Linked DNA regions of Homo sapiens. The protein of the gene in region 1 interacts with the protein of each later gene in a pairwise test. Each region holds a gene or a part of one and is shown in the gene's direction. Other genes may lie near its edges.

Region 1 (4,136 bases):
GTGGCACCATCTAAGCTTACTACAGCCTCAACCTCCCAGGCTCAAGCGATCCTCCCTCCTCAGCCTCCCAATTAGCTGGGACTACAGGCGCCAGCCACCACGCCCGGCTATTTTTTTTTTTTTTTTTTTTTTTTTTGGTAGAGGCAGGGTATTACTATGCCTAGGCTGGTCCGGAACTCCTGAGCTCAGGCGATCCGCCCACCTCGGCATCCAAAAGTGCTGGTATTACAGGTGTGAGCCACCGCGCCCAGCCTGTTTGGGGATCTGGCTAGCATCTGTTTCTCTCCTGATTTCTTGGAAGGTCAGATAAAGATCCTAGCTTTGGCGTGGTAGTGTGAAACTTCAGCATGAGTAACCCCATTTTGGTTTGGTCTGATGGGCCTAATGCAGGAGGTCAGTCTAAACTAACGGTCTCCCATATACATTTTATCTAATAGCTCTGTCACCCTTCCTGCACACCCGGGGAACTCGGGTGCGGCATTCTAACGCCTGCTCAGCATGATTCCACATTTTCTCCAGGCCCATAATCCAGAGGAGGTTGGGCCCGGAGCAGGCTTGCCTCGCCAAGCTCCGGCTCCGTGCGTGTGTGAAGCAGTGCCATGCCTGAGTGGGGAGGAGCCGCGGAAGAGAAAGCGTAAGGCGGCGTGGAAATGGGTGGGGCACGCTAGGACCCGCTCACATTTGTTCAGGGAGAGGCAGTCCCAAAAAGCCTCTCAGGCACACAACCCAGCACAGCAAGGCAGTCACACCAAGGTGGGAAAAGAGGGCAGAAGAGCGCGAGGGGCTGGAGGTGGCGCCCCTGTGTCCCACTCGTTCTCCCTGGGCTGGGAAAGAGAAGCGGTCCCTCAGAAGCGCAGGCTGCGCTAGCTTAGGATGGACGTGGGTAACGCTCAGCTGACTCCCCGCAGGCACCCTATGCAGGGCTTTGTTTCGGGGGGGAACCCGCACCAGCGCGTAAGGGGAGTAGGAGAGATCTACGTGACCCTGGTGCGCAGCCGCGCCCTATCGCCCCGGCCACGCGCCGACGCCCCGCCCCGTCCGTGACGCGTTCGCGCGGGGCCTCCGCCCCATCCCCCTCCCAGGCGGTCCCCAGCGCGCTGCCTCCGCCGTTCCCCGCCCCCTCGCCTCTGAGGCTGCCCGGATAGCTGCCTGATCCAAGGCCCAGCAGCTTCTGCCTTCCGGATCCCCACCGACGGACGGAGGCAGCCCACCTGCAGGACCGGGGCGCTGTCGGTCCACGTGGCCGCTCTGGAGCAGGTTGGAGTTGGCAGCGGGCTGCGCTGCAGGGACAGGCGCGGCGGACAGCCCCGGGGGCAGCGGCGGGGTCCTGTCTGGGAGAGGACAGGGTTGCGGCGGGCGGAACGGTGTCTCCTTCACTTCGCCCTCCAGCTGCTGGAGCTGCAGCCCGACCGCGAGCGTGCCAAGCGGCTTCAGCAGCTAGCGGAGCGGTGGCGGCGGCCCCCCTCAGGACACCACCAGGTACCGCCGCGCCCGCCTCACGCCGACCCAGGGGCCTAGGCCGCGGCGGCCAAGCCGGAGGCCCGCGCCGGACTCGGAGTCGGCCCTGGCTTCCTAAGATGGCCGCGCTGCCCCGCGGCCCCTCGCCCCTCTCTGCCCGGGATCTCCCTTTGGCCCTTTGACCCCAGCTTACCGCACTTCTTGTCCCTCCCGCAGATTCCCCTCTTCCCGCGGCCTCGCCATGGCGACCCACGGACAGACTTGCGCGCGTCGTAAGTAAAGCTGGGATCTCTGCGGGATGGGGCGGCGGAGAGTCGAAGCCTGTCGACCAGAAACCCAGTTTGTTTCCCCCTATCTTTCCAAGAACTTGGAAATTCGGCTGCTTTTGGTGGTCGCCCCACCGTCTGACCACCTCCTCTGCGGAGGAGGGGCTGGGCTGCTGGATTTCAAATGGGGAACAAGGCCCGGGGAGTTGGTCTGTGGCCGCATGGACTTTTCAGCCTTTGTACATGTCTTTGACGTATAGAAGTAAAAAGTTGTTAATTGGGGATTCTGCCTTTGGAGGATCGGATCAATCACTTTTCTAGAGGAAGTAGCAGTCCCTCTTGTGAGAGCGCAAGGTCATTACTTGTGCTCCTAAGGGCGTGGACGTGCTTTGTGGAATGAATGAGCTGGTGTAATGAGCTCAGATTGCCTGCCCTTAAGCAGCACAGCATTGGCCGAGGACTTGAGAGTCACATTAGTAAGTTTGAAGCGCTATTTGATATTTAGTTGATGTAGACATTTGAGTGAAACACACATGGCAGTATTTTTTCCAAGTTTCAATATTTAAATTCCCAGTATTAAATTCTCTTCCCACTCCAGGGTGTTGGTTTTCCCCTCAGCGAAGATATTAAAGGACGTATCAGGGTAAAGGGCCTAGTCTTAGGTTTCGGTTTTATCTAATTTAGTTAAATCAGCTCATCTCAGTGAATTTTGGCAGATACATAAATATCCATACACACAAATACTTGTTTGATTCTTTGTACTTGTCCAGTCCTAGGAAGTGAGGCTGTAGGTAATAGACTGTTTTTCCGTTTTGAAACGAATTCCCCAAGTTTGTATAATCATGGTTATCTGTTTTAGAAATAATTCGTTGGTGGTATCTCCTTTATGGGTCGTTATAGTTCTATTGTAGCTCCTGACCGCATAAAAAACATTCCAACAAATGGGATTGCTTGAATTTTAATATCAGCAGTGGGTCATGCTCTTGTTCTTGGATAGAAGGTGGGAGAATAGAGACATTAACACTGGAATGTTTTTTTTCTACCAGCAATGTGTATTCCTCCATCATATGCTGACCTTGGCAAAGCTGCCAGAGATATTTTCAACAAAGGATTTGGTAAGAACCTTATTTTTAAAACGTTTTAGATAAAGAGTGAAAATGTATGTTTGGGTTGCTTAGCGAAATCAGATCAATCATTGCAAATTGTAAATATCTTGCTGCTTTAAATTTAGAGTTACTTATTTTTTTGAGACAGGGTCTCCCTCTGTTGCCCAGGCTGGATGCAGTGGCATGATTATACCTCACTGCAGCCTGGACCTCCTGGGCTCAAGCGATCATCTTTCCTCAGCCTCCCACGTCCCAAGTAGCTGGGACTACAGGCACGCTCTGCCACACCTGGCTAATTTTTTTTATTTTTCGTAGAGGTGGGGTCTCACTGTGTTACCCAGTAAACACAGTGGCCTCTCAAAGCCTGGTTGGATTACGTTACAGACATGAGCCACTGTGCCCAGCCTTGTATTAATTCTTCTATTAGAAACTTAAGATACTTAGATTAAACTTATGTGAAAATAGTTCTTTTACAGTCTACATCCCCCTCCCCCAATTTCCCAAAATTTTTAAAAACTGTACTTAGAAGATTTGAGCCTTTAAGAAAAACGGCTCGTGCTTTAATTTTTTTTCAGTTATAGCTTAGGCCCTGGTTGACTAGAGTTACGATATATTACTGTTTTGCTTTTGTGGTGACTCCTAATACTTTATCTAGAGTTATGAGCTTTTTCAGGTGAATTTGAGTTTTCTTGAAAATTTTGTTCCATACCCTCCTCCCCTTTATTTAGACTGTTGGAAATACCCCATTGGCATAAATGTCCTAAATGTCTGTATTATGATAAGTTGGTTTTGTTTTTGTTTTTTTTTGAGACGGAATCTCGCTCTGTTGCCCAGGCTGGAGTACAGGGGCGTGATCTCGGCTCCCTGCAGCCTCTGCCTCCTGGGTTCCAGCAATTCTCCTGCCTCAGCCTCTCTGGTAACTGGGATTACAGGCACATGCCACCATGCCCAGCTTTTTTTTTGTATTTTTAGTAGAGACGAGGTTTCACCATGTTGGCCAGGCTGGTTTTGAACTCCTGATCTCAAGTGGTCTGCCTGCCTCGACTACCCGAAGTGCTAGGATTTCAGGCGTGGGCCACCGCACCTGGCCATATCATGATAAGTTATTAGCTATTCTGAAATTTCAGTTGAATGATTTTTTAATCTGATATTTAAGTTTAAGAATAGTTTGGGGGCTGGGCGTGGTGGCTCACACCTGTAATCCCAGCACTTTGGGAGGCCGAGGCGGGCAGATCACGAGGTCAGGAGATCGAGACCATCCTAGCTAACACGGTGAAACCCCATCTCTACTAAAAATACAAAAAAT
Region 2 (3,500 bases), on another chromosome or scaffold:
GGCCTCCCAAAGTGCTGGAATTACAGGCATGAGCCACCGCGCCTGGCCACTTGTAACTTTCAATGGCTATTTTAATAGTCTCATTAATACGCTATATCAAACCATTCCAATCATGGGCATTTGGTTTTGTTGCTTTTTCACCATCTTAAATAGTAGTGATGCACATTCTTATTTGTAAAATCTTTATCCAAAGAGGGAAGTCATAACCAAAGACCAAGTACATGAATAACTTACAAATTAGAAATTCAGAGGCTGGCACGGTGCCTCACGCCTGTAATCCTAGGACTTTGAGAGGCCAAGGCAGGTGGATTGCTTGAGTTCAGGAGTTTGAGATCAGCCTGGGCAACAAAGTGAGACCCCCATATCTACCAAAACAAAAAACAAAAAAATTAGCCAGGCACAGTGGCATCCACCTACTGAGTAGTAATTGCAGCTACTCGGGAGGCTGAGGTGGAAGGATCACTTGAACCTAGGAGTTGGAGGGTGCAGTAAGCTATGATTGCAACACTGAACTCTAGCCTGGGTGACAGAGCAAGACCATGTCTCTTTTAAAAAAAAAAATTCATCCGTAAATGTTTAGATAAATACAGAAGAGGAAGAATTATTATGTCCATCTGGCAAGACCTCTCAGAGATAGAATTTGAACTTAGCCTTGAAGGAGATAGGCAGGCAAGATGAGTAAGATTTGGACATAATAAGATGAAAGTTGAGGCAAGATCAGGGTGTAGGAAGATTTGTCAAAATGGATGCTGAAGCGCTTTTGCAAAACAGCCAGGGAATAGATGAAAAGGAAACTTGTTAGCTAAGTGTTAAATCATTGCGTGGGAGAGTCTCAGCGAATATTTCAGACTTGAAAACTGAAGTTTATTGAGAGATGACTGAACAACAATGTTGGAGGAGAGAGTAGAAGATAATGACCATGCTAAGATACCTTTTCTCTCATATGTTGAGAATAGTTGGAAAAAGAATAGTTCCTGTTACAGAAGTTTGCAGAGAAAAAGTTGTTTTAAATTAAATCTGGTTTCATTTTGAATGAGATGGTAAAAGAAGATTGGAAAAGCTAGAGGAAGAAGAATAATTTTGGCTGTTTTCACAGATGGAATGTGGGCTTTATCGGGTATTTGATGCTCTCCAACTTTTCTCTAGTTCTGAAAGGCCTTTGCCTCTAGGAGCAACAGTAGTGACATGGCTTTAATGAGCTCAGAACTCTCACACCTTCCCTCCCCATAATTTCTGCTGCTTTCTTGGCCTCTACTTTCTTTCCTTTTTTTTTTTTTTTGAGACGGAGTCTCACTCTGTTTCCCAGGCTGGAGTGCAGTGGTGCAATCTCGGCTCACTGCTACCTCCATCTCCCGGGTTCAAGCAGTTCTCTGCCTCAGCCTCCCGAATAGCTGGAATTACAGGCGCCCGCCACCACACCCGGCTAATTTTTTGTATTTTTAATAGAGACGGGGTTTCATTGTGTTAGCCAGGATGGTCTCCATCTCCTGACCTCGTGATCCACTGCCTTGGCCTCACAAAGTGCTGGGATTACAGGCCTGAGCCACCGTGCCTGGCCTTTTTTTTTTTTTTTTTTTTTGAGATGGAGTCTCACTCTGTCACCCAGGCTGCAGTGCAGTGGTGCAATCCCAGCTCACTGCAACCTCCGCCTCCCAGGTTCAAGTGATTCTCCTGCCTCAGCCTCCCGAGTAGCTGGGACTAGAGGCACCCGCCACCACACCCAGCTAATTTTGTATTTTTAGTAGAGATGGGGTTTCACCATGTTAGCCAGGCTGGTCTCAAACTTCTGACCTCAGTTGATCTGCCCACCTTGGCTTCCCAAAGTGCTGGGATTACAGGCGTGAGCCATCACGCCCAGCCTCGTTTCTTTCCTGTTGAGATTATTTTCTTATTCTTGCCATGTCCCCTCTCTTGAAAGTCTTAGTTAGGCCATTAGTAAATGGCTGTACAGCCTTGGTGTATTCATTTGCTATTCCTGGCATAACATATTACCACACAGGCTGGGCACAGTGGCTCACACTTGTAATCTCAGCACTTTGGGAGGCCAAGGCGGGCGGATCACGAGGACAAGAGATTGAGACAATCCTGGCCAACATGGTGAAACCCCGTCTCTACTAAAAATACAAAAAAAAAAAATTAGCTGGGCATGGTGGCGCACACCTGTAGTCCCAGCTACCTAGGAGGCTGAGGCAGGAGAATCGCTTGAACCCGGGAGGCAGAGGTGGCAGTGAGCCAAGATTGCGTCACTGCACTCCAGCCTGGAAACAGAGTGAGACTCCATCTCAAAAAAAAAAACCAAAAAAACAAATTACCACACATTTTGTGGCTTAAACCACATACATTTATTATTTACCATGTGTAGGTCATAAATCAAACACTGGTCACTGGGCTAGCAATCTTCACACCTTGGCCAGCAGTCTTCACACCTTGGCCTTCTGAAGTATTAGGATTACAGGCATGAGTCACTGCTCCTGGCCTGGGCTCCAATCAGGGTTTCAGCAGGACTGCCTTCCTTTCTGGAGGCTCTAGGAGAGGGTCTAGTTCCTCGAATATTGGGTTGTTGGCAGAATTCAGTTTCTCGTGGTTGTAGGACTGAGATCTCTGTTTTGTTGCTGGCTGTGAGCTGAGAGTTGTTCCCAGCTTCTAAAGGTCACTTACATCCCTTGGTTCATGGCTCCCTTCTTCCACTTTCAAAGCCAACAATGGCAGATTGCATCCCCTTCACACTTGGAATCTCTTTTTCTTCTTCCATTTCATCTCTGACCCCCTTCCTATGCCTTTCTCACCTACATTTGTGGACTATGATTAGATTGGGCCCAAATGGACAATCCAAGACAAACTCTAGGATCTCAAGGTTCTTAACCTTAATCATACCTGCAAAGCCCTGTTTCCTCATGTATAATCCATATTCACAGGATCCAGGGATTAGAGAAAGGACTTTTTTTTGAGACAGAGTTTTGCTGTTTGACCCAGGCTGGAGTGAAGTGGCGAGATCTTGGCTCACTGCAACCTTTGCCCCCCCCGGTTCAAGTGATTTTCCTGCCTCAGCCTCTTAAGTAGCTGGGATTACAGGCATGTGCCATCATGCCTGGCTAATTTTTGTATTTTTAGTAAGAGACAGGGTTTCATGATGTTGGCCAGGCTGGTCCCGAACTCTTGACCTCAGGTGATCCACCCGCCTAGTCCTCCCAAAGTGCTAGGATTACAGGCATGAGCCACCGTGCCCTGCAGGAAAGGACGTTTTTGTGGGGCCGTTATTCTCTACTTGCAACACTTGATAGGAAGTTCAGCAGATCCACTCTAAGCAACTGTGCTATGAGTGGATCTTAGCACTGTATCCATTTCCATTTGTATTCTGTGTATTATTCCTCTTTTTCATTGTAGGTGTTGTGTGTGTCTGTGTCTGTGTTTGGAGTGACATTAATCCTGAACACCAGTCTCTTTTTCTCAGATATGTCTTGTCGTTCAAGACTTGCAACACTAAACGAGAAATTGACAGC
Region 3 (3,500 bases), on another chromosome or scaffold:
GGCCGGAGTGTGGTGGCGATCTCCACTCAATGCAAGCTCTGCCTCCCAGGTTCAAGCGATTCTCTTGCCTCAGCCTCCCGAGTAGCTAGGATACAGGCTCCCACCACCACGCCTGGCTAATTTTTGTAGTTTTAGTAGAGACGAGGTTTCACCATATTGGCCACGCTGGTCTCAAACTCCTGACCTTGTGATCCGCCCACCTCGGCCTCCCAAAGTGCTGGGATTACAGGCGTGAGCCACTGCGCCCGGCTGAGGTAAAATTTAAAGTGTACAATTCAGTCATTTTTAGTATATTTATACTAGTTGTACAGCCATCACCACAATCTAAGTTTAGAACATTTTCATTAGGGGGTGGGAGAAATTTTACTCTGCTTTTTAGATTAAGTTTCTGTCTGGATCTAATCATTTAATCAGACAATCAGGCAGATTGTCTGTGATTAGTTTTGGCCATTCCAGCTTCTTCATTGGTTGTTAACTTTCACAAATAAAGGCTGCTCAAAGATTAGAAATAACATTTAATTTGAATGTAAATGTGCCATAGTTTAAAAGATGGGTTTGGTGAATACAGTCAAATACATACATTTAAAGCTCTAATTCTGAAGATTATGTAAAGAAAAGGAAAGAAATGTAGGGAGAGGATTGAAATGTTCATGGTATAACAATATCTGAACATCCATCTGGTCACACCGTTGGTATTTGAATGTTTTGTCCTCCTCAAATTCATATGTCGAAATCCCAACTCCCAAGGTGATCGTATTAGGAGGTGTGGTCTTTGGGAAGTGATTAGGTCATGAAGGTGAAGCCTTCATGAATGGGATTCGTGCTCTTATAAAAGAGAACTGTGAGAAATAAGTTTCTGTCGTTTGTTAGCCACCCAGTTTAGGATATTTTGATATAGCAGCCTGCATGGACTGAGACAACTATGAGTTATTATGATAGCTTCTGTTATTTCACCTAAATTCATAGAAGCTAATATATCAATATTTATGCTATGAAATATTTCTTAACCAAGCTTTGAATATATTTATATTTTTGTTTATTTTTAAATTTCAGATTCCAGATGACCTGAGGAAGAGACTAAATATAGAAATGCATGCCGTAGTCAGGATAACTCCAGTGGAAGTTACCCCTAAAATTCCAAGATCTCTAAAGTTACAACCTAGAGAGAATTTAGTGAGTTCAAATATATATGTTACATCAAAATTCTTTTACACGTTTTGTAAGATTTCTAGTTGCTTTAGCTAAGTAATAAGAATGTTGTATTCCTTTTTGATACAAATCTTTTTTTATTGTGTTAAACTATATATAACATAAAATATGCCATGTTCGCCATTTTTAAGTGTATAATTCAAAGGCATTAATTACATTCATAATATTGTACAACCATCACCACTATCTATATCCAGAACTTTTCCATCACCCCAAAGAGAAACTTGGTACCCATTAAACAATAATTCCCCGTCCACTCCTTTCCCCAGTCCCTGGTAATCTCTAATGTATATTGTGTCTCTATGAATTTACTTATTCTAGATATTTCATATATAAGTAGAAGTATGCATTTGTCTTATGTATCTGACTTATTTCATTTAACATAATGTTTTCAAGGCTCATCTGTGTTGTATGTATCAGAATGTTATTCCTTTTCATGGCTGAATACTATTCCATTGACTGCATATACCACATTTGTTTATCCATTCATCTGTTGATGGACACTTGGGTTGTTTCCACATTTTTGGCTGCTGTGAATAATGCTACAGTGAACATTGGTGTACAAGTATCTGTTTGAGTTCCTCTTTTCAGCTCCTTTGGGATATACCTAGGAATTATGTTTAACTTTTTGAGAAGCTGAGAAATCTTTAATAAATGATAACACAAATACTTATATTTGCCAATGCAAATATGAATATTTTTGGCTTTTAAGAGATTGATCATTTTGCCACGTGGTTGTAATTAAAAAAAATTGTCCCATGTTGTTTCAGTATTAATATTGTAGCCTAAAAGAGTGCTAGACTGTTTTACTTTTTACTCAGTTAATTCTTTGGATACTGGTAGAGTCAGGAAATGAGATATTGAACTTAAAGATCTTTGCAGGTGGGGTCCAGTGGCTCACACCTGTAATCCTAGCACTTTGGGAAGCTGAGGTGGGAGGATTGCTTGAGGCCAAGAGTTTGAGAATAGCCTGGGCAACATAGCAAGACCCCATCTCTACAAAAAAATTAAAAAAAAAATTAAGCCAGGCGTGGTAGCTCACGCCTGTTATCCCAACACTTCGGGAGGCTGAGATGGGTGGATCACTTGAGGTCAGGAGTTGGAGACCAGCCTGGCCAACATGGTGAAACCCCATCTCTACTAAAAATACCAAAATTATCGGGGCGTGGTGCTAATCCTGTAATCTCAGCTACTCAGGAGGCTGAGGCAGGAGAACCACTTGAACTGAGGAGGTGGAAGTTGCAGTGAGCCTAGATCTCACCACTGCACTCCAGCCTGGGTAACAGAGCGAGACTCTATTTCAAAAAAAGTAAAAATAAAAATTAGACACATGTGGTGGCACATGCCTGTAGTCCTAGCTACTCAGGAGGCTGACTGAAGTGGGAGGATCTCTTGAGCCCAGGAGTTCCACACTGCAGTGAGCTATGATTGTGCCACTGCACTCCAGCCTAGGCAATATCTCAAAAAAAATTTTTTTAAATAGATTATTAGGCCAGACGTGGTGGCTCATGCCAGTAATCCCAGCACTTTGGAAGGCCAAGGCAGGCGGATCACCTGAGGCCAGGAGTTTGAGACCAGCCTGGCCAACATGGTGAAACCCCATGTCTACCAAAAATACAAAAATTAGCTGCAATGTCTATAATCCCAGCTACTTGGGAGCCTGAGGCAAGCGAATCGCTTGAACCCGGGAGGCAGAGGTTGCAGTGAGTGGAGACTGCGCCACTGCACTCCAGCCTGGGCGATACAGCGAGATTCTGTCTCAAAGAAAAAGGAATTTGTTTTCCTGTCTTTATCGTAGAGGGAGGAAAGGGAGAATGGGGTTGGAATGGTTATTGAGTGAGCCACATTATGGTAGATGTATCACTGGGCATAGAGAAAAGGAGCATTTAAAACTTTTCCGCCTAACAGATGTTTCTTCAGGCTACACTGCACTCATTGTGCTAACTGTAATGTCAAATCCCAGACCTGTGCCTATAGAACATGAACATCCTTCATTGGATTTGTTTGGTCAGGCTTACACTTTATTAGGAAGATCAGATGTTAAAATAAGGGTGTTAAAGTTAAGTTCAGATATGAGGATAATTCATTACTATTCCTTTTTCTGGCAGCCTAAAGACATAAGTGAAGAAGACATAAAAACTGTATTTTATTCATGGCTACAGCAGTCTACTACCACCATGCTTCCTTTGGTAATATCAGAGGAAGAATTTATTAAGCTGGAAACTAAAGATGGTGAGTACATTTGTTATTTTGACTTTTTTTTCTATTTAAATAGTTGTACATTTTTAATT
Region 4 (3,500 bases), on another chromosome or scaffold:
GGTGGACTTTGGCAAAAATGGTTTGGTTTGCAAGAGCAATGGAGAAAAAACTTATTTAACTTTTCCTACTTATAGAATCAAGGCAGCCTTGCGCTTGTTTAAACTTACTTGGCTATACACGTGTCTGATGTACATAATGTACATTTGTTTTCTAAACTAACTTTGTTCATTCTAAGATTTAAAAACTGATCAAACAAATGTGATAATTCTGTCATAAGTCACAAACTATAAACGATTTCTCCGTTTTTTTCTCTTTTACCTAAAATGTTTTCAGATAAATGTGTAATAAGTAGAGCCAAAGAAGCTTTAAAAAGTCATCTCATCTTACAATCCTTGATCTGGAATAATGCTTAAAGACTATAGAAGAGACGCATTTTTATTTTTTACAGATTTTATTAAGTGAATACAGTACGTTTGATTTGGACATGTTGTTGAACATTAAATTGCAGTTCAGAATACATAGAAATCCTCCCTTTTCTAGAGATTGTGTATGTGTGTAAATTTTTGTGCCTTCTGGTTCATGTACGTTTCCTTCTCTCCCTCAAATCGTTTAGCAGTTTCTTACCCCATTCTCCGTGATGTGCTTATTTCATATTGCATGCCTGTATCAAAACATCTCATATGCCCCATAAATATATATACCTACTATGTACCCACAAAACTAAAAATTAAAAAAAAAGGAAAAAAAAAGGCCTGCAACAAGAGAAGAAGAAAGAAATCAGATACCCTGTAGGTAGCTATCTCCAAAAGTTTTCAATAGTTGACTTAAGAAAACTACTGACTTGTATGTAACTGAAATCAGGAAACCTGTAGTGTAGAGTGGTTCCCCTGAATATGTCTCTTTTGGTAATCTAAGCTGTATTTCAGAAATGTACAGAAAAGGAGCTAAGCTTCTAAATGGATATAGCATATTTTGCATAAATCAAATTTAATATGAATCCATGATTCTTGTATGTGTAAATCTGCCTGCATTTATTTATGTCAGTAGTTGGTAATTATTCATCTTAATTTTTTTTTTTAAATTTCTAGGTGTGCCAAAGAGGCGGCACATAAGGATTTTAAAAAGGCAGTTGGTGCCTTTTCTGTAACTTATGATCCAGAAAATTATCAGCTTGTCATTTTGGTGAGCATTTTTGAGTTGTTTATTTTTAGTTTAATTCATCTGGGGCAATTGCCTTGATAATAATGTTGTTAATTTAAATCATTTAGTCCATCAATGAAGTCACCTCAAAGCGAGCACATATGCTGATTGACATGCACTTTCGGAGTCTGCGCACTAAGTTGTCTCTGATAATGAGAAATGAAGAAGCTAGTAAGCAGCTGGAGGTATGTCACTTTCCCTAGCACTGCTTGTAAGGGTACCTAGGAACGATTAACTGTATCATTCCACAACTTGAATATGGGGAGCTTGTCATTTATTTACTGCTTCTTAACAATTCCTTAGGTTCTATAGTTGGAAAATTGTACAAAGCATAATCATACTAAAGTTTCCATGCCTGAGGTTTCAAAATTAAACAGCAGCTTATGTATATTAAGGGACTTCTGGTACTTTCACTTTTACTAGAAGTTTATCAAAGTTGCTAATAAAATGCGGCAATGCTTCTTCCATATAACATGTTGTCATTAAAAATACTAGAGAATATTTAAATATCTAATCATATTCCTCTCATTATGTATGTTTATCTTTGTTTAAAAGGGTATAGAACTTCTTCATTCTAATTGGTTGTCATTCTTTAAAACTCCTGTCTTCAGATTCCCGCCAGAGGCTATTTCCCTAACTTACTATTTTGTCTCTTAAGGTGCATTTTATCTACTTTTATTAATCCTCCAATAATTTTCATCACCATATATTTGTTTTCATTGATAACTATCAAGTACGTCCATCCATTACTATAGAAACTAAGTGGATCTTAGATGAATGTGCCAGCTCTACTATATTCCTGTCAAATTCCAGAGTTCGTCATCATTATTCATTAGAAGGAAAACACCACACATTTGAAATAGTAAAGAAAAAAAGGAGTTCCAAACTGCATTTTAGGAGAAAAGGTAGTCAAGACTGTGTTCTTATAAAAACCCTGTGAAATTTGCCACCTGTCAACTTGATGTATGATGCTGAACTCTTAGCAGAAGGGGAAAAGTTTAATCTCCTTTTGCCACTTTGTTTTTTCTTAAGGCCATGGAGGTCTGTTTAATTGGTCTTTGCTCTCATTCTTTCTTGATGTCCCTGTGTTCATGATTTTGTGGTTCCTTCAGTGATTCTCTCATAACTTTTAGCCCAGAGCTGCCTCCTTACTTTGATTGTGAGTATTATGAAAATATACTCATATGCCTCTTAAACATCGAATTATTCTTAAATGATCTATCATACTTTTGGCTAACCATTTATCAGTGAATTATCAATGAAAAAGAACGAACCAGATTAATGAACCAGGACTCAAAAAACATGACTTCTTGAAAAGTCCTAGAATTATTTTATAGATTTTATTACTCTAGTCTAAAAAAAATGGGTATTGCACTTTTAAATTATTTATGCTAGTTGTATTCATTCATTCAAATTATCAGGTCTGTTGAACAATGAGAAACTAGTATGCATGCCTATCTTTCTTCACTACTAATATTAAAGAGATTTACATGTTCCTATAAGAAATTCCCATTTTTCAACATGAGCCACTAATACGTTTGGTTTTCATTAATGGCATGCTAGAACTGAACACTAAATTTTGATAATGGTATTTAAAGACAGTGGTTATCCACAAGTTTGGGATGTCAGTGTAACTTAGTTTCGTCATCACTGGATATTTACAAGTGCTCATCATAATTGTGGATCCAGATCACAAGGTCTTACGGACTCTGGTCTCATGTTAGCTTTCAGATGCTTACTAAGTTTTTAATTTTTGACATTTTTTGATTATTCAGTTTAACTACTGTACCAACAATTTTTGATTCCTTAGGTTTTGAGGGAGGTGTCATTTTAATGTCATTTCAACAGAGGAATGTTTAGACCACAGTACCTAATGATGTTATAAAAAATGGCACTGTTTCCAGAAAATATATACTGATACCTTTTAATAAAAATGAAGCGAATAAAATTTTCTATAAAGATGATATTTAAACATTTTTTTACCTAAATAAGTAACATTGAGTTTGTCAGACCGAGTGAGCTGGTTTTTACTGGGGAACATTTGACCTGCTTCTTAGTTATTATATTGCTGATGTCATTGGTTAACTAAGGCAGCCTTGTGATAAGTTTTCAGCAGTTACCTTGGAAAATGTCAACAAGTTCTTTCCTATTAACAAAAACATATAAAATGTCATAGACCTTTAGTAACCTAAAAAGTACTTAGGCTGTGAGAGGTATTTTCTAAAACCTGTTAGTTTTAACCTAAAACTATTAATAATTTATGGACCCCTCATATACAGGGTCAAGATAATTTACATGGCTGGCCTAAATACAGTTGTCGTAATAGTTGATAAAGTGTATTCATCAGACGTCCATTTCT
Region 5 (3,500 bases), on another chromosome or scaffold:
TCACTCAAAGTGAAAATGACAGACACCTCTTTGTGAGCCACCCTTACTCCCACAAAGAATGTTCCAGACTCCACACAGTTCTCTTCTGGAGCCTGGAGGTGCAAGCTGTCATCGTAGATAGAATCCTCTGAAAACAAACTTAATATCTTAAAATCGTAACATTTTTAACATTACATAATTGGAAGATCCGACACGGGAACATTTTTGCCCACAGGTTTGAGCAGAATCTCGTCTCGGCTCCCTTCCCCAGCCTGCCTTCTTCACGGGTCCGCTGGGCCATCGGTGTGGTGACGCTGCTTCCTGGTTTCTCGTGGCAGCAGAAGGGCCGATCACCACAGGCCCAGACAGAGAGCTCTGCAGTGTTCTATTCATAGAGGCAGACTCCTCATAGTTTTTAAGTTTCGTTCTTTTTCCATCTCAGGAGTTGAATTTGTTTGGACCTTCTTTGCAGAAAAGGAGACTGAACTTTTTAATCCCATGTCAGAGGAAGGTCTTGGGTGTACATTGCAGGGAGCAGAAATTGGGGCTTTAAAAAGGGGATCGTTCCCTGGTCATCGAGTTCAGGTGGGGGACCAGCCCCTCCACACTGTCCAAGCAGAGGCTAGACGCCATCCAACGTAATGTTCTAGAATATTCCTTGTCTTTTAAAGGCCCTCTCAACCAGGTGGTTGTGTGTGTTCTAGGCAAAAGAATGTGCATGGCTTTGAGTAAGACAGGATTTCAGATTTATTTTTACCAAGGCCACCCCCTTGCTACCGTGGCGGTCGTGCGTGAAACTGGTGGTGAGCAGTGGCGGGCCAGGCCACCTTTAGTTGTCCTGCTGTTCGCAAGGCCCCCATACGGGGATTAACTGAGCAGCCTGCCGGCTGACGCACATGTTGACTCGTGTAGCTGTTGATTTTAGCCAGCTGGCCTGGCGTCATACTACAGGGGCTTGCCCCAAACAAACCCTGGAGTAGGTTGGTTTTCATAAATGCCCTCTGGCTCTCTGGCAAGCGTTGGAAATGCCCTCAAACCCTGTAGTGCCTGGTCTTCCCTGGCCATCTCCTGGCAGTGTGAGCGCCTCTCTGCTCATGTAGAAGGTTGTTGACCCCAGAGAGAGCTAGGGGAGCTGTTAGCTGCTTTAATCGTTTATTTGCTTGTTATAAAACAGAGATTAAGTGGACTGTCACAAATATACATGAAGCAGCAGAGCTGTTCCCCCACGTGTAGACGTGCATGCACACACTCCTAAACACTTCCGTTTCTTCCATGAGCCTGTCCTTCTCATCTGTGGAAGGCTCAGTCTGTGTAGACATGCATGCACACACTCATAACACTTCCGTTTCCTCCATGAGCCTGCCCCTCTCCTCTCATCTGTGGAAGACTCAGTCTTCTGGTTGTTTCCAGGTGTCCTGGTCCTCCAGAGCTGATAGCCAGGCTGTTGGCAGGTGAGGGCCACATTCTGGTGTTGTCACCTAGTTGCCATTCACCTGGGATCCCTCCTTGGCCTTCTGGTGGGCCTGGTGGAGAGAACCTGCCCCAGGGGATTTGTGGGGTCTGGTGCTTCCCCGAGGCCCGGAGCTGATGGGGGGCTCCAGCCTGGATGTGTCATGTAGCCCCTCAGTGGGCCCTGGACATGCAGCCAGGCTTCCCTACCCCCATGTGGGGCCGCCCCCTAGGCGTCCACTTCCTGGTGTTGGTCCAGGCCCCTGGCACTTCTGAAGATGCACAGAACCTGCTTTGTATGCCACGCCATGCTGTGTGAGCACTGGCACCATGGCCACTTTGTCCCCCATCCCCTCCAGTCCCTCTGCCTGGCTGCCCTGTGTTCTGGCAGGGCTCAGGGCCTCTGAGTTCTGCACAGACCAGGAAGGCATGAGGGCTGGCCCTGGGTGGCAGCGCTGCTTCACCCCATCCTGAGGCTGCTCCCAGCATGCCTCCCTCAGCCCTCTGCTCCTCTTGGCTGTGGTGAAGGCCAAGAGCTCTTTCTGACCTTAGCGCTGCATGCAGAGCAGGGGAGCAGGACCCACAGGTCGGGGGAAGGCAGCCTTTGGCCTTGACTATGGGGAGGTAGGGGTGCGCTGGTGTGTATGTGTAGGTGCACACGTGTAGGGGTGGGTGTGCATGTGTGAGGGTGCACGTGTGGGGGTGGGTGTGCACGTGTGTGTAGGGGTGGGTTGCGTGTGTGTGAATGTGTATAGGGGTGGGTTGTGTGAATGTGTGTGTAGGGGTGGGTTGCGTGTGTGTGAATGTGTGTGTAGGGGTGGGTTTGAATGCAGGTAGGTTGCGTGTGTGTGTAGGGGTGGGTTGCGTGTGTGTGAATGTGTGTGTAGGGGTGGGTTGTTTGCGGGTAGGTTGCGTGTGTGTGAATGTGTGTGTAGGGGTGGGTTGTGTGAATGCGGGTAGGTTGCGTGTGTGTGTGTAGGGGTGGGTTGCGTGTGTGTGAATGTGTGTGTAGGGGTGGGTTGTTTGAATGCGGGTAGGTTGCGTGTGTGTGAATGTGTATAGGGGTGGGTTGTGTGAATGCGTGTGTGTAGGGGTGGGCTGCATGTGTGTGTGTAGGGGTGGGTTGTGTGTGTGTGTATGGGGTGGGTTTGTGTGAATGCGTGTGTGTAGGGGTGGGTTGCGTGTGTGTGTGTGCACGTGTGTGTACGGGCAGAAGGTGGCCTGGCAGCTGCTTCTCAGGGTCTCCGGCCATAGGGAGGGCAGCTCACCCGGCAGCCCCGTGCAGCTGAACGGTATTTTTGCTGGGAGAGTGGTGCTGGGCCCTCTGCCTGTGTCTGCACTGAACTCCCTTTCCCTAATGCTTGCTCTGCCACCCCTCCGGGGACTGCCTGCGGCTTCTCCTCCTCGTAAGGATCGCCATTTCCCTTCATGGAGGCTCAGGGAGGTGACATCCTTGCTGTAGTGCAGAGCTGGGTCACAAAACCAGCTCCCAGACAGGCATCTCAGGGCTCCGTCATCTCTTCATGTGGGTGACCCTGAGGGGAGGGAAGTGGGGAGCCCGTGGGTCCCTCCAGTGCTGGAGGTCTTGCAGGGAGAGAAGCACACATGCATCTAGTCACGCTGGTAGAAGGTGGGGAGCCAGGCACGGGGCAGAGGGGGGCTCCAGGCCCAGAAGAGGGAGGGCTCACAGGGACCGCGAGCATGGGGAGGGCCACCTGGAGAAGGGGGGAGGGAGGACCACTAGGATGGGGCTGGTGATGGGAAAACGCAAGGGTGCGGGTTCCTTTTGCCCAGAGGCAGGGTGGTCAGAGGGAGGCGTGAGATGGGAGCAGTGGGGGTCCTGTCCCAGCCTCGTTCCCACGTACCATCTTTCCCCCAGGTGGTCAAGTACCCCCTGCACGCCATCATGGAGATCAAGGAGTACCTGATTGACATGGCCTCCAGGGCAGGCATGCACTGGCTGTCCACCATCATCCCCACGCACCACATCAACGCGCTCATCTTCTTCTTCATCGTCAGCAACCTCACCATCGACTTCTTCGCCTTCTTCATCCCGCTGGTCATCTTCTACC
Region 6 (2,164 bases), on another chromosome or scaffold:
ATTAGAACACTGACCTGGGCTTCACCTCCTTCCATTCGGTGAAGAAGGGCGAGGAATTTTAGCCGCAACAGCAGCCTGATTGTCGGGGAAGGAGGCTCTGATAGGAGGCAGGATCCTCTTCTGCCCATCAGAGGCGCGGTGGTCTCCCATCGATCGTTGTGGGCCGGAGCAGGGCATTTGATCAGTGGCTGGGCCGGCGCTAAGCCCCACTTCACCTTCTGTGCCCTTCAGACCGGCCAGTGGTGGCCGAACTTGCTGCCTCGCCCCCTGGAGGCGTGCGCCCAGGAGGAAACTTCACGTTGACCTGCCGCGCGGAGGCCTGGCCTCCAGCCCAGATCAGCTGGCGCGCGCCCCCGGGGGCCCTCAACATCGGCCTGTCGAGCAACAACAGCACACTGAGCGTGGCAGGCGCCATGGGAAGCCACGGCGGCGAGTACGAGTGCGCAGCCACCAACGCGCACGGGCGCCACGCGCGGCGCATCACGGTGCGCGTGGCCGGTAAGTGGCAGCTGGGGAGAGGCGGGGCGAGGTATCTGAGAGGGGGCGTGACCTGGGTCTTGGGGCGGCCGGCCCCGCCTGCCTCCCTCTCGGTCCCGGTAGACTAGACGGAAGTGGGACAGAGTAGAAGTCAAAGGTGCCTTAGCGGGTGGGGCTGTTGATCGCACTTTGAGGGGTGGGAGATGGAGGTGGCAGGGGGACTGAATTCAAGGGGAGGGACCCTCCGGGGCTGTCACTGCTGCAGGAAAGGACTTTAAAACTTGGGCTGGATTCTGCGTGGTGGAAACTTGACCCAATTCACAATCCACTGTGGGGAAGATTGGGGAGGGACCAAAGTCATTGGATGTTGGAGGGAGAGAGGGGTCAAGATCGCCTTCTCTCACTTCCTGAAGCTCCTGGGGCTGGGTTCTCTCTGGGGTCGGGGGAACCTGACCTGGTCCTGCCGGTCCTCATTTTTTGGGGGATGGGGAGAGTTGACTTGTCGCCAGGGGGCTAAGTGTGGTCACGGGTTTATATCCCCATGGGCTGAAGTGCGATATAAATCGGGACTCGGGTCGCCCTGGCACTGGGAGTGGCCTTATTGCATGGGTTGTCTCCCTTCTCCCAAGGCCAGACAGTGAGCTCCCCGGGGCATGAGGACTGACTTCGTGCCTGTGGGAGTGCGGGGGGCGGTGGGAGAAGCCCCCCGGAGCTTGGCCACCCTCCGCGAGGGTCTCCACCCCGCAGGTCCGTGGCTATGGGTCGCCGTGGGCGGCGCGGCGGGGGGCGCGGCGCTGCTGGCCGCGGGGGCCGGCCTGGCCTTCTACGTGCAGTCCACCGCCTGCAAGAAGGGCGAGTACAACGTGCAGGAGGCCGAGAGCTCAGGCGAGGCCGTGTGTCTGAACGGAGCGGGCGGCGGCGCTGGCGGGGCGGCAGGCGCGGAGGGCGGACCCGAGGCGGCGGGGGGCGCGGCCGAGTCGCCGGCGGAGGGCGAGGTCTTCGCCATACAGCTGACATCGGCGTGAGCCCGCTCCCCTCTCCCCGCGGGCCGGGGGACGCCCCCCAGACTCACACGGGGGCTTATTTATTGCTTTATTTATTTACTTATTCATTTATTTATGTATTCAACTCCAAGGGCGTCACCCCCATTTTCTACCCATCCCCTCAATAAAGTTTTTATAAAGGAACTCCCTGTCTCCGCTTCTGTTTCTGCAAGGTGGAACAAGCCCAGGGTTCCAGTCGTGACCTCCCGAGTTATTCATTCAAAAAGCGATTTTTGAGAGGGCCTGGGGTGGTGGCTTAGGCCTGTAATCCCAGGACTTGTGGGAGGCCCAGGTGGGAGGATCCCTTGCACCCAAGAGTTTCAGACCAGCCTGGGCAACATAGGGAGACCCTACAAAAAATATTTTTCAAAAATTAGCCAAGGCCGGTCGCGGTGGCTCATGCGTGTAATCCCAGGACTTTGGAAGGCCGAGGCGGCCAGATCACGAGGTCGAGGTCATGAGATCGAGACCATCCTGGCCAATATGGTGAAACCCTGTCTCTACTAAAAATACAAAAATTAGCTGGGCATGGTGGTGCGCGCCTGTAGTCCCAGCTATTCGGGAGGCTGAGGCAGGAGAATCGCTTTAACCCCGGAGGCAGAGGTTGCAGTGAGCCGAGATCGTGCCACTGAACTCCAGCCTGG
Region 7 (3,500 bases), on another chromosome or scaffold:
CTCCCGGGTTCATGCCATTCTCCTTCCTCAGCCTCCTGAGTAGCTGGGATTACAGGCGCCTGCCACCATGCCCACGTGGATCACGAGGTCAAGAGCTTGAGACCATCCTGGCCAACATGGTGAAACCCCGTCTCTACTAAAAATACAAAAATTAACTGGGCGTGGTGGCACGTGCCTGTAGTCCCAGCTGCTCGGGAGGCTGAGGCAGGAGAATCACTTGATCCCCAGAGGTGAGGTTGCAGTGATCTGAGATCGCGCCACTGCAGCCTGGTGACAAAGGAAGACTCCGTCTCAAAAAAAAAAAAGACTTGGAGGATTTATTTGTTTGGGGTTGATTTAGTTTTAGGTCTAATCTTTATGATTCTTATCTTATGTATTAATAAAAGAAAAATCTCTTTACATTTAATTCTGGCCTGTATCCTCAAAGGGCATGATTTGCTTCTTGCTTTTCTAGCATGGTATGTTAAATTATAAGACTCTTTGCCTCTTTAACTGTGCGCTTCCTTCCTTAGGAATCAGAGAAGATCATTGCTGAGTTGAATGAAACTTGGGAAGAGAAGCTTCGTAAAACAGAGGCCATCAGAATGGAGAGGTCAGGAGGTTAAAATCTGGAAATGTTTCTAAGTTTTCTAGGGGATGTGGATTACTTTATCGTAAGAAAAGATAAAATATAAATTAAAATCAAAGAGTCTGCCCTTCTAAAACACAAAACGAAACCAAAAAAATGGACAGGGATTTATGGCCAGTTGAATTTATGCTTTGAAATGACATCTACATATTTAAATATTATCTAGGGAGTCACAGGTTTATTAGTTACCATATTACATGTTGCTAGGGATTCATAAAAATGGAACATATTGGCCAGGCGCGGTGGCTCACGCCTGTAATGCCAGCACTTTGGGAGGCTGAGGTGGGCAGATCACGAGGTCGGGAGATCGAGACCATCCTGGCTAGCATGGTGAAACCCCATCTCTACTAAAAATACAAAACAAATTAGCCGGGCATGGTGGTGGGCACCTGTAGTCCCAGCTACTCGGGAGGCTGAGGCAGGAGAATGGCGTGAACCTGGGAGGCAGAGTTTGCAGTGAGCCGAGATGGTGCCACTGCACTGCAGCCTGGGTGACAGCAAGACTCTGTCTCAAAAAAAAAAAAAAGGAATAGCCTCTTCTTTTCTTTTTTATATTAATATGCATATCATTTATGAATTATTGACTATCCCAAAGTCAGTTGAGACAAAGTTCTTATCTCAGTGAATATAACTTTAACAAAGCAAGATTTCATTGATTTTGAATGTGATGTTGCTTTTAGAAATAACTTCTCATTAATGATGAGATAAGCACATTATTTTATGTTTGCATTATTGGCTATAAACATGGCCAGTTGTTTTTGCTTTGCAGGCTTTATTTTCCAATTCATATTAGACTGATTTAATTGACATTTTGGTATTAGTGTTCTGATATACCTGTTTTTTTCCTAGAGAGGCTTTGTTGGCTGAGATGGGAGTTGCCATTCGGGAAGATGGAGGAACCCTAGGGGTTTTCTCACCTAAAAAGGTAGGAAACAATGCTGTGAAACCTAATCAGACAGAGACACTTTTTGTTTGTCTTTGTTACTGGGGCACTTCATGTCTTTCAGGACCTACTCTCCCCCTTATTATCTTGATACTTGCCTTAATTTCAGATATTTCTGATTTCATCTTAGAGCATGGTCTTATAGTACAAAGGCAGCCTATTTCTAAAATGCCTATCTTGTTTACTGTTTACAAAAGAAAAAACCTAAGGCAATATGTAACCTTTGGCCATGATTCAGTTTGTTTAGTCATCTTTATTTGTTGCTTTCTCTTAAATTCCCAGCCTAACCTAGCGTACTTTCAGTTTTGGCTACTCTTTCATGTAGATTTTCCCACAGAAGTCGTCTACCCTGCTTTATAACTTTTTGGAACCAATTTCAGCTGTACAGGTTTGTGGAGAATAATACTGCTTCCATTTGCTTCTGCAATTTGTATTATAGACAGCCATTGTACTAAGTAAAGCAATTCCTGTCCCTATCCTTCTAGACTCCTCTGCTTCCTTCTTCATTTTTTAAAAAGTGTCTCCAATAGTTACCTTCCTTTTTACATAATCATAGTTATGAAGTAGTTACGTAGCTTTTAGCTAATTAGAGTAGTAAGGGTTTTTTTGTTTTTTTCTTAAACTAAGTTGCAACGTCTTGTTGGATACTAGAAAATGACTATCAAATGGTTATTTTGTGTGCTTATGTATCAGAAAATAGGAGAACATATATCGATGTACAAAGCATGTATTTTATGCCACTAGTAAATTGTCCTTTATTTCAAGTGACCTCACATTGGCTATTGGAGACTTAAACATCTTTATTCATAGGTTCTGTTGATGATCTCTCTAAGTTAGGATACAAGGGGTGGTGAGTTTTGAATTGGTACTTTTATGTGATATGAAATATTCCTGTGGTTTTCGCTACAATTCTTCTGGTCAGGTTTTTCTATCCTGGCCACATAACTTTTTTTTTTTTTTCTTCCCAAATTCCAATGTGTTATTTTCAACAGAAAAGACTGATGTAAAGACATTTTAGATGCATATTGTAGAATAGAACAGTTAAGTATTTTATATGTTTATATTATGAAAGGTTAGTGGTTTTCACAGTTTTAATAGTTTTTCCTTCAGTAAGACATGTATTCATTCAGATATGTTACTTAGGATTATATAGATTTTAGCAGTTACAGTTTTGGTGGAATTTAATTGTGCCTATGCATATGTCTAATAAAGGTATTTTATAACATCTTACAGTATTAAAGACTGTGAGGAAATTTTTTTTTTTTTTTTTTTTTGAGACAGAGTCTCACTCTGTCGCCAGGCTGGACTGCAGTGGTGTGATCTTGGCTCACTGCAACCTCCGCCTCCCGGGTTCAAGTGATTCTCCTGCCTCAGCCTCCCAAGTAGCTGGACTGCAGGCACATGCCACCACGCCCAGCTAAGTTTTGTATTTTTAGTAGAGACGGTTTCACCATGTTGGCCAAGGGTGGTCTTGATCTCTTGACTTTGTGATCCACCCACTTCAGCCTCTCGAAGTGCTGGGATTACAGGCATGAGCCACTGTGCCTGGCTGGAAAATTTTTATTATAACAACTAGTGAAAATATTATGCATTTAACATAAATCATAAATAACTTGAACAAATGTTGAGATGTACACTGCATGGAATTCCAAAGTGAGATCTCTGCTTCCAAAGCTTTTTCTTACTTTAATTTTACCCATCTTGCTTTAGCTTTCTAGACTTCTTCATGAAAGGAAGGGATATACCAGTGACCACATCCAAACTCAGTCTTAGGACCTGTTTCTGAGATTCCATTTTTCAAATTATGATGTGCTTTAAAGAATGCTACTCACAAAGGGCTTTGACTTTCTCAAACCAGTCAAGTTCTTCAACTACAAAGGGGGATGCTAGTTGAGAAGATGTGGAGGTTTTTCAGATTTCTCTTTAACC

Evidence for each region.
Region 2: the proteins of VDAC2 (region 1) and BRK1 interact in binary tests that used the Homo sapiens proteins (3 or more experiments, as listed by UniProt).
Region 3: the proteins of VDAC2 (region 1) and PEX1 interact in binary tests that used the Homo sapiens proteins (3 or more experiments, as listed by UniProt).
Region 4: the proteins of VDAC2 (region 1) and FMR1 interact in binary tests that used the Homo sapiens proteins (3 or more experiments, as listed by UniProt).
Region 5: the proteins of VDAC2 (region 1) and WFS1 interact in binary tests that used the Homo sapiens proteins (3 or more experiments, as listed by UniProt).
Region 6: the proteins of VDAC2 (region 1) and ICAM5 interact in binary tests that used the Homo sapiens proteins (3 or more experiments, as listed by UniProt).
Region 7: the proteins of VDAC2 (region 1) and KIF1B interact in binary tests that used the Homo sapiens proteins (3 or more experiments, as listed by UniProt).

The regions. Positions count from the first base shown.
Region 1 is NC_000010.11:75,209,460-75,213,595, forward strand, and holds the start of VDAC2 (non-selective voltage-gated ion channel VDAC2), read left to right. Parts: upstream 1-1,336; 5' UTR 1,337-1,479; intron 1,480-1,674; 5' UTR 1,675-1,699; coding exon 1,700-1,730; intron 1,731-2,022; exon of another isoform or gene 2,023-2,124; coding exon of another isoform or gene 2,125-2,200; intron 2,201-2,770; coding exon 2,771-2,839; intron 2,840-4,136. UniProt on the Homo sapiens protein: Non-selective voltage-gated ion channel that mediates the transport of anions and cations through the mitochondrion outer membrane and plasma membrane.
Region 2 is NC_000003.12:10,122,175-10,125,674, forward strand, and holds part of BRK1 (protein BRICK1), read left to right. Parts: intron 1-3,451; coding exon 3,452-3,500. UniProt on the Homo sapiens protein: Involved in regulation of actin and microtubule organization. Part of a WAVE complex that activates the Arp2/3 complex. As component of the WAVE1 complex, required for BDNF-NTRK2 endocytic trafficking and signaling from early endosomes.
Region 3 is NC_000007.14:92,511,521-92,515,020, reverse strand, and holds part of PEX1 (peroxisomal ATPase PEX1), read left to right. Parts: intron 1-1,053; coding exon 1,054-1,173; intron 1,174-3,317; coding exon 3,318-3,441; intron 3,442-3,500. UniProt on the Homo sapiens protein: Component of the PEX1-PEX6 AAA ATPase complex, a protein dislocase complex that mediates the ATP-dependent extraction of the PEX5 receptor from peroxisomal membranes, an essential step for PEX5 recycling.
Region 4 is NC_000023.11:147,928,919-147,932,418, forward strand, and holds part of FMR1 (fragile X messenger ribonucleoprotein 1), read left to right. Parts: intron 1-1,029; coding exon 1,030-1,123; intron 1,124-1,209; coding exon 1,210-1,326; intron 1,327-3,500.
Region 5 is NC_000004.12:6,297,350-6,300,849, forward strand, and holds part of WFS1 (wolframin), read left to right. Parts: intron 1-3,307; coding exon 3,308-3,500. UniProt on the Homo sapiens protein: Participates in the regulation of cellular Ca(2+) homeostasis, at least partly, by modulating the filling state of the endoplasmic reticulum Ca(2+) store.
Region 6 is NC_000019.10:10,295,115-10,297,278, forward strand, and holds the end of ICAM5 (intercellular adhesion molecule 5 precursor), read left to right. Parts: intron 1-231; coding exon 232-498; intron 499-1,224; coding exon 1,225-1,502; 3' UTR 1,503-1,664; downstream 1,665-2,164. UniProt on the Homo sapiens protein: ICAM proteins are ligands for the leukocyte adhesion protein LFA-1 (integrin alpha-L/beta-2).
Region 7 is NC_000001.11:10,290,570-10,294,069, forward strand, and holds part of KIF1B (kinesin-like protein KIF1B), read left to right. Parts: intron 1-512; coding exon 513-592; intron 593-1,477; coding exon 1,478-1,553; intron 1,554-3,500. UniProt on the Homo sapiens protein: Has a plus-end-directed microtubule motor activity and functions as a motor for transport of vesicles and organelles along microtubules.